Linked DNA regions of Homo sapiens: regions 2 and 3 are each linked to region 1. The links come from fine-mapping of genetic effects on gene expression. A gene starts in region 1. Each other region holds a variant in brackets. All regions are shown on one strand. Distances are from middle to middle.

The links. PIP is the estimated chance that this variant, and not a neighbour inherited with it, causes the effect.
Region 2: its variant is fine-mapped to the expression of ERN1 in whole blood (INTERVAL, PIP 0.96).
Region 3: its variant is fine-mapped to the expression of ERN1 in whole blood (TOPMed, PIP above 0.99).

What each region holds. Positions count from the first base shown.
Region 1 is chr17:64,128,732-64,131,231 of GRCh38, reverse strand. It overlaps ERN1 (endoplasmic reticulum to nucleus signaling 1), which reads left to right and starts at 1,088. Exons shown (of 22, transcript NM_001433.5): 1 at 1,088-1,256. The coding sequence starts at 1,203. RefSeq lists enhancers at 188-237, 288-487 and silencers at 908-1,037, 1,128-1,577.
Region 2 is chr17:64,055,371-64,058,214 of GRCh38, reverse strand. ERN1 (endoplasmic reticulum to nucleus signaling 1) reads left to right here. Exons shown (of 22, transcript NM_001433.5): 12 at 222-413; 13 at 2,267-2,540. Among named protein-coding and RNA genes, the nearest start is that of ICAM2, 36 kb to the right of the region's middle. RefSeq lists a silencer at 1,203-1,252 and enhancers at 1,563-1,682, 1,471-2,214, 2,215-2,844. The variant C/T (reference allele first, on the strand shown) is at 1,698.
Region 3 is chr17:64,051,520-64,054,363 of GRCh38, reverse strand. ERN1 (endoplasmic reticulum to nucleus signaling 1) reads left to right here. Exons shown (of 22, transcript NM_001433.5): 15 at 1-114; 16 at 993-1,092; 17 at 1,385-1,584. Among named protein-coding and RNA genes, the nearest start is that of ICAM2, 32 kb to the right of the region's middle. The variant G/A (reference allele first, on the strand shown) is at 1,595.

The DNA of each region.
Region 1 (2,500 bases):
ATTCTTTTCCTTCAAACCTGAAAAATCTTAGGCTCTCATATAAGCAAGTCAGGAAAAATTAGAGAATTTCATAGCCGTTTTCTTTTTCTCCTAGGATAAGTTAGATACCTTTCCCTGGGCTCCAAATCTCAGTTTACTGTCTTTCCTTGCAAAAGACGTGTCCTCCCTACCCATGTCCCTCTCAGTGGAGGCCAGTGCCAGTGACCAAACAGCTGCCGAGCTCTTTAACTCTAATTAGTACTCCACACCCTCACATAGACCTTGCAGGAGGCCTCAACCCACCCACTCCCTCCAACGAGTTGTGACGCAGACCATCTCAAACTTCACATCCACACGTGTCACATCAACGCACGTGACACAAGTGGCCGAAATGGTTTCCTCCTTATAATTTTTGGTGAGTGACTTGGCCGTGGTTCATTCCAAGCGGAAGTGATGGCTGGTGGATATGACTTGAGGGGAATTCCTGAGGGCAAGGAAAAGGAAGAAAGGGGCCCCAGAGAAGACGAGGCACAGCTGGAGAACCCTAGGGCTGTGAACACTGCGACTGCCGCGCGGGGCAGCTGCGCCGTGTTTGCTGGAAGCCTCCGGTAGCTGCTGAAACCTTCGCTCCGGAGGTCGCCTCGGTAAACCTTGCGGATGATTCCACCACGGCGGAAAGACGAAAAGGAGGCTTCTAGGCACCCGGGACCGCCCGTGTCCCGCCCTTTTCCCCGATGAAGTCTGACGCGGCAGGTCCCTCGGCAGGGTTAATGGGACGGCCTGGTGGGGCATTGCCGGTCTTTCCCAGCCACAGACAAGCTTCGCGCCTCGATCCCCCAGCGCCCCCAGACGCTGGATGCCGAGGCCTGGTCCTTTACAGCCGCCGACGCCTCATGAGCGAAGCCAGCCAGATGCCAGCACCGCCTTCGGCCCCGCCCCGAGCCAGCCCCTCCCACATCCCCGCCCGGGGCACGCCCTCGGCCCGCCCCCATCTCCGCCCCGAACACGCCCCTAGATTGGCCCCGCCCCGTCCCCGCCCGCAACTCCGCCCCGACCGGAAGAAGCCGCGGCACCCAGCGCTTATAGGGCCGGGAATGGGGGTGCCGCCGCTGCCTAGTCAGTTCTGCGTCCGCTGAGGCTCGGTCACCGCCTCGCTGTCGTCGCGGCGCCCCCGCCCCGTCCTCTGTCCGTACCGCCCCCGGAGCCAGGGCCGAGTCCTCGCCATGCCGGCCCGGCGGCTGCTGCTGCTGCTGACGCTGCTGCTGCCCGGCCTCGGGGTGAGTGACCGGGGAGCGTGGGGTGGAGGACAGCTCGCGACGGCCGGGTCGGGGCCGGGGCAGCGTCGCGGCGCCGGGGCTGGAGTCCGAGCTGGGAGCGCGACGGCGGCGGCCAGATGCCCCGTGAGCCCAGCCGTGGGAGGCTCGGGCCGGGCGTAGGAGGCGGCACCGGGCCGGGAGAGCTTCCCTGACGGGAGTCGCGGCCCCACCGAGGCGTCGGCCGCCCGAAGAGCCTCCCAAGCCAGCGCGGCTGTCACGGGCAGCGGCTCCCCGGACCCCGCGGGCTCGGGCGCAACTTCGTGGCGTCCTGCACGGCACTTGGGGGTCCCAGAAGGCCCCGGCCTGAGGAGGCCGCCCACCTGCGGGACCCTCCTCCTCGCGGGCGGGCGCCGGCGCTGCCTGGCGGGGGCCGCGGAGGAGCCGAAAGGGCGTTGGGATCCAGGGGAAGGGTCTGTCCTGCGCTTCGAATCCTTGTTTGAACTTTTTAAAAATTCGAAAACTTTGGGGAACGAATGCAACAGGGAGTAAGGACTCTCACCCGAGAGCTGGCTTCTGCCACTTGCCCTGCCGGTTTCTTGGTACTGGGAGGCTGCAGGCTTCCTTCTGTGCACCGAGACTTCCTTGAGCAAGTGGAGCTGTGGGAATTGCACTCTTGGAAGATCCCGCATGGGTTCGAGGTGAGGCCGCTTCAGAACCTCAAATGAAAGACTGTCTCCTCGTGGGAGAGCACCTGGGGCCATCAGAAATGTCTTTTCATCTTTTTCTGGAGGAGACGAATGATAGGGCCTGGTTTACATTCATTTAACTCTTTATGACCTTCACTCAGCTGTGGATTTGGGGGCACTTTGTGGGAGACTTGGCTTTTTTTTTTCTTCTGGTTGGAAGAACCTAAATTAGCGAATGTTTTTCACAAAATGTATTGTTCAGGATGTGAGCGTGGCAAATTTGTCCGTGTTCTGTTTAATGACCTCTTTAAAGGTACTGTGTACTCTTTAATAGGGATATCATGTACCAGGTGTCCCAGTAGAGCACTGACATGTGTGTGCCTGAGTGCCAGCCACCGTGTGAACTCTTTGGAGGTTTTGCATTTTAGGTAAATAACTGTCTGTACTCTTGGAGTAACAAGAATTTGGAAACAGGAGAAGTAAATAAATAAGGTTGCCTTTTTCAAATTCAGGGTTTTTTTTTTTAAATAAAGGAAAATTTGTAGACTCTTTATAATAGAACTTGTGGAAGTTAAGTTT
Region 2 (2,844 bases), 73 kb after region 1:
TAATGATAACCTCACTGCAAAGATGCATGGCCTCTCAAAGCAATTGCTTTGAAAGAGGCAACAGTTATCTGGCTACATGATCTTTGGTGAGCTTAAAACAAATAAAACCCCCTGCAGTACAGTCATATCCTTGTAAACAGTGATTGCTTCTCTTGATTGCTGGCCTCATCTGTATCTGGCTAGAAATTTTGCAGTGATGTCGCAACTCTCTCCCATGCAAGGTTATCAACCTGGTTGACCAGACTTCAGAAAACGCACCTACCACCGTGTCTCGGGATGTGGAGGAGAAGCCCGCCCATGCCCCTGCCCGGCCCGAGGCCCCCGTGGACTCCATGCTTAAGGACATGGCTACCATCATCCTGAGCACCTTCCTGCTGATTGGCTGGGTGGCCTTCATCATCACCTATCCCCTGGTAAAGCTCAACAATTCCCCTTTGCCATCCACCTATTTCTGGGGCTTCTCTGCCTGTCGCCTCATGTCAGTGAGATCCAGACAAAAACAACCAGCACATTTCTTTCCCCATTTAAAAGTCAGTGTTTGTTGGCCGGGCGGGCACAGTGGCTCACGCCTGTAATCCCAGCACTTTGGGAGGCCGAGGCGGGTGGATCACAAGGTCAGGAGATCAAGACCATCCTGGCTAACACAGTGAAACCCTGTCTCTACTAAAAATACAAAAAATTAGCCGGGCATGGTGGCAGGGGCCTGTAGTCCCAGCCACTCTGGAGGCTGAGGCAGGAGAATGGCGTGAACCCGTGAGGCGGAGCTTATAGTGAGCTGAGATCACACCACTGCACTCCAGCCTGGGCGACAGAGCAAGGCGACAGAGCAAGACTCCATCTCAAAAAAAAAGAAAAAAAAAGTCAGTGTTTGTTTATCTTCAAAAACATAATTAAAGAGACACTAGCCTCCCAGAAAAGGACAATTTTGTTCCTAAATCTTAGTGTTTTTCAGCTAAGAGCTGATTTATAAGCCTTGCTCAAAGATGATTTTGAATAGTTATCTGTATTTTTAAAGAATAAGGATAATAGATGAAGACCTTTCCTCCCTTAAAAACTGCCATTAGAACTTCTGCTGGGGAGAAGAACCAAAAAAAGAAAAAAGAAGCTGCCTGTGAGATCAGCTTGTGTGAAAAAGGCAGTGTGGCCATCCCTTTACTTCCTAGTTGGAAATGAGCAAGTTCTGTAGCAGAACAGGCCATGGGTGGGATGAAATATGTGAGGGGCATGGTCCTTCAGCAGGTTGCTCAGAGCATCGAGATGCTGTTACCTGAGAGCTCAGGAAGCTAATGACCCGCCCAGGAATGGGAATGACAGACTCTTTATGGCACTCCCCACTGGCACGTCTGCACCTGATAGTTTCACTTTTCACCTCACTCAGTCCTATGAGGTCATTATTATTGATCCCTTGTCCACAAAAGAAGGAAGTAGACCCTGAGAAGCTAAGTAACTTTCCCCACGGGTACCCAGCTAGTAGACGGCATTTCTAGGACTCCACCCCATGGTGGAGAGAAGAAGAGACGACTCCCTGGTGGGTTGGTGGCTCACAGAAGTCCCTTCAGTCCACCTCCTGCACATGGGTAGGGATGATCACAGATCGCTGCTACTTCAGATAATGACAGAATGAATCCTTCAGAGTATTTGAGAGGCATGTGGCCTCGGGGAAGGCAGTGGGATGAAAGGCGGAAGCAGGACCTCAG[C/T]CAGGCTCACCATGTGTCAGCCCCACTGCCACCTCCTGGCTATGTGTATGCAGATGTACTCTGCATACCTAGAATACTAGAGCTTCCTCACCTGCCCCTCTGGATTACTGAGTGTCTGTGCGCTAGCCTCTAGCCAACACACAGACACGGTGGGTGGCGAACCTGGGGCTTGCTCTCACCCACCACTGGCTCAGCCATGCTACCTGTGCTTCCTGTTTGGTTTCACCTTTGCAACAACTCTCAGACTTTCATGAAAATCACAGAATTTTAGAACTGAATGAAACTGGCACAGCCCTCAACCTAGGGCACAGTCCCTCCCCTGGTGGCCATCCAGCCCCTCCTAGGGTTGGGGAGTGGGCTGTATGAGCAAGGATCTAACTAGTCGGTGGAAAGACGTCCAGTCATCGAAGCAATTCTGCTTCCAGGTGCCTTCTCACTGGTCTCTTTGTGCCCTGTTGGGTCACATAAAGTACACATGCTCCCTCCGCCACTGGGACCTGTCCCTTCCCAGCTGCTTGTTTCCCTGTGGGAACAGCTGCCCTTGTCTGGATGTGGGTTTCTCTTCCCAGAGCATGCATCAGCAGCAGCAGCTCCAGCACCAGCAGTTCCAGAAGGAACTGGAGAAGATCCAGCTCCTGCAGCAGCAGCAGCAGCAGCTGCCCTTCCACCCACCTGGAGACACGGCTCAGGACGGCGAGCTCCTGGACACGTCTGGCCCGTACTCAGAGAGCTCGGGCACCAGCAGCCCCAGCACGTCCCCCAGGGCCTCCAACCACTCGCTCTGCTCCGGCAGCTCTGCCTCCAAGGCTGGCAGCAGCCCCTCCCTGGAACAAGACGATGGAGGTAAAGCCAGTTGCCATCTTGGTGCTATTTTATGTTTTATTCGAGCACCTCCTGAGAAGTCCAAGGAGTCTCCATAAGATTGTAAACTACCATTCTCAGGGGTTCACTGTGTTCTCCTCTAACTTCCACTCTGGGGGTCTCTGTGGGAAGGCTTCTGCCCCATCCCTTGGCATCTCCCCTTCAGAGGGCCTTCTGGGAACCACCCTGGCCATCCTCCTGTCTTTCTCCACAAGGGCTGGGCGTCGCGGCTGACCAGAGGTGAGCTGCCCATTGGGCTGAAGAGAGTTCCCAGGGCCAGCCGGTG
Region 3 (2,844 bases), 77 kb after region 1:
CAGCTGTTGCGAGAATCGGATGAGCACCCGAACGTGATCCGCTACTTCTGCACGGAGAAGGACCGGCAATTCCAGTACATTGCCATCGAGCTGTGTGCAGCCACCCTGCAAGAGGTGGATTTATTTTTTTTATTTTGTTAACTTTATTAAAGTCATAGCACTTTGGGAGGCCAAAGTGAGCAGATCACGTGAGCTCAGGAGTTTGAGACCAGCCTGGACAACATGGTGAAACCCCATCTCTACAAAGAAACCAAAAATTAGCCAGGCCTAGCGATGTGTTCCTGTAGCCCCAGCTACTTGGGAGGCTGAGGTGGGAAGATTGCTTGAGCCTGGGAGATCAAGGCTGCAGTAAGCAGTGATTGTGCCACTGCACTCCAGCCTGGACAACAGAGTGAGACCCCGTCAAATTAAAAAAAAGTTACAGTGAATTGTACTAATTTTAAATGTAATAGCTTGATGAATTTTGACAAATGTCTATACCCATTTAACCACATACACAGTCAAAATGTGGAGCATTTTTATCCCTCTGGTTGTAACAGGGTGGTCCCCCCAGCATGCCTGGGCAGTCTGCTTGCAGTTGGCATGTCTCTCCCTCTTTGCCTCCAGGAAACCTGGACAGTTGTTCTTTCCCTCTTCAGTCATGGCTGGTGTGGGCTTGGAGGATGCCAGTTGGTAACTCCAGGCTTTAAGATCATCCAGCAAGCTCCTTTTGCTCATTTTCCAGGCTCACTTTGAAACCATATCAGTATCATTTGGATTCCTTTGTAGGTTTACTTATATGAGGCAATGAACTTGAGTTTCTTGCCTTCTTATCTTTCTCATTGTAAATTAGTAGATTTGGAGGTTTGCTCCTTGCTGGAAAACATGGATTTAGACAGAATGTTGTCAGTAAAACTTGCCATTTCTTTCTTAAAATGGTATCAAAGAAAGTGAGCCGAGGGGCCAAGTCCTGAGGACTGTGTGCCGTGACCTTGCTGTCATGTCTTTTGCAGTATGTGGAGCAGAAGGACTTTGCGCATCTCGGCCTGGAGCCCATCACCTTGCTGCAGCAGACCACCTCGGGCCTGGCCCACCTCCACTCCCTCAACATCGGTGAGAGGCTGCACTTTACCAGGCCAGCGGCCCGGGTGGGGAGAATCAGTGGCCCAGGTGGGGCTAACCAGTAGCTCGGGTGGGCCTTGCTTCTGTTCAAGCTCTTGGCTATATCACCAGTAGCAAAGATGAGTGGTGTAAGAATTTGAGGAGGAATCCGACATAGTTGAAAATCAGAACATTTGGAGGTGGCGGCAGGCATATTGGGAGTCTGACGAGGACACATTCCCCATTGGAGGAGGCCTGGGGTTGCTCCTGGTAAGCATTGGACTAATCTGGAGTTCTCTGTTAGTTCACAGAGACCTAAAGCCACACAACATCCTCATATCCATGCCCAATGCACACGGCAAGATCAAGGCCATGATCTCCGACTTTGGCCTCTGCAAGAAGCTGGCAGTGGGCAGACACAGTTTCAGCCGCCGATCTGGGGTGCCTGGCACAGAAGGCTGGATCGCTCCAGAGATGCTGAGCGAAGACTGTAAGGAGAACCCTGTGAGTAATA[G/A]GCTATGGCCCTTTGAAAACTACAGAACCAGCCCATTGTATCTTCAGGAGTAGAACCTTTAAATTCCAGGTTTGGGGGCTGGTGCCCGTGTAGCTGGAGAATGGCATTCCTTTCACCAAGAGCTTCTGTGTGAACATTCTGTGTCATCTCATGTTCAGCTGATTAAAGGGGCAAATGTGGGCAATTATCTATTTTTTTTCCCTATTCTTCCAATCACTTGTTTTTTTTTTTTGTTTGGTTGGTTGGCTGTTTTTTTGTTTTTTTTGTGTGACAGAGTCTTACTGTCACCCAGGCTGGAGTGTAGTGGCATGATCTCAGCTCACTGCAATCTCCACCTCCCAGGTTCAAGCGATTCTCCTGCTTCAGCCTCCTGAGTAGCTAGGATTACAGGTACCTGCCACCACACCCAGCTAAATCAATCACTTTTTAACCCCTTTTTAATTTTGGTAAACTGGGAAGTCAGGGCTTGCTTAGCGTGAGCAAACTTCAAGTTTTCATTATTTTTAAAATTTTGTTTTTGTTTTCTCAACTTATTTTGATAATTTTTAGACATAGAGAAAATTAAAAGAAAAAAATTTTTTAGAAGTGCGATCTCGCTATTTTGCCCAGGCTGGTCTTGAACTCCTGGGCTCAGGCTTAGCCTCCCAAAGTGCTGGGATTGCAGACATGAGCCACAGCATCTGGCTGAAAGAATGTTAACATGAATACCTGTGTATCTCCACCTAGATTCAACATTTGTTAATACTTTTGCCACATTTGCTTTATCTTTACCTATTACTGAACCATTTGAATATAAGTAGCAGGCATCCTGGCCCTTCATCCCTGAAGACCTCAGCACGTGTCTCCTAAGGAATACATTGTGTTTCCAACCACAATACCATTATCCCACCTCAACAGTTAATACTGTTTCTATCCATCATCTCATATTCAATCCATATTCAAATTTCCCCAATTAGTCCCCAAATGTCTTTTATAGAGTTGGTATTTTGCTACCTACTGGGTTTTGATACCTACTGGGTTTTATATACCAGGATGGAATCAGGTGTCTTGCGTTACATTTGATTCTGTCTCTTGGAATTTACAAATCTTTCCACCTATATTTTGTTCCATGTTGAAGTTCCATTTTGAAGAGTCCAGGCAGTGGGTTATAGGATGCCCCATTCTGGTTTGTTTGCTTTTTTCCTCATGACAGCGTTGAACATTTCTCTGTATTCCTTGTATTTCCTGGAAACCAGAAGTTAGGTGGAGAG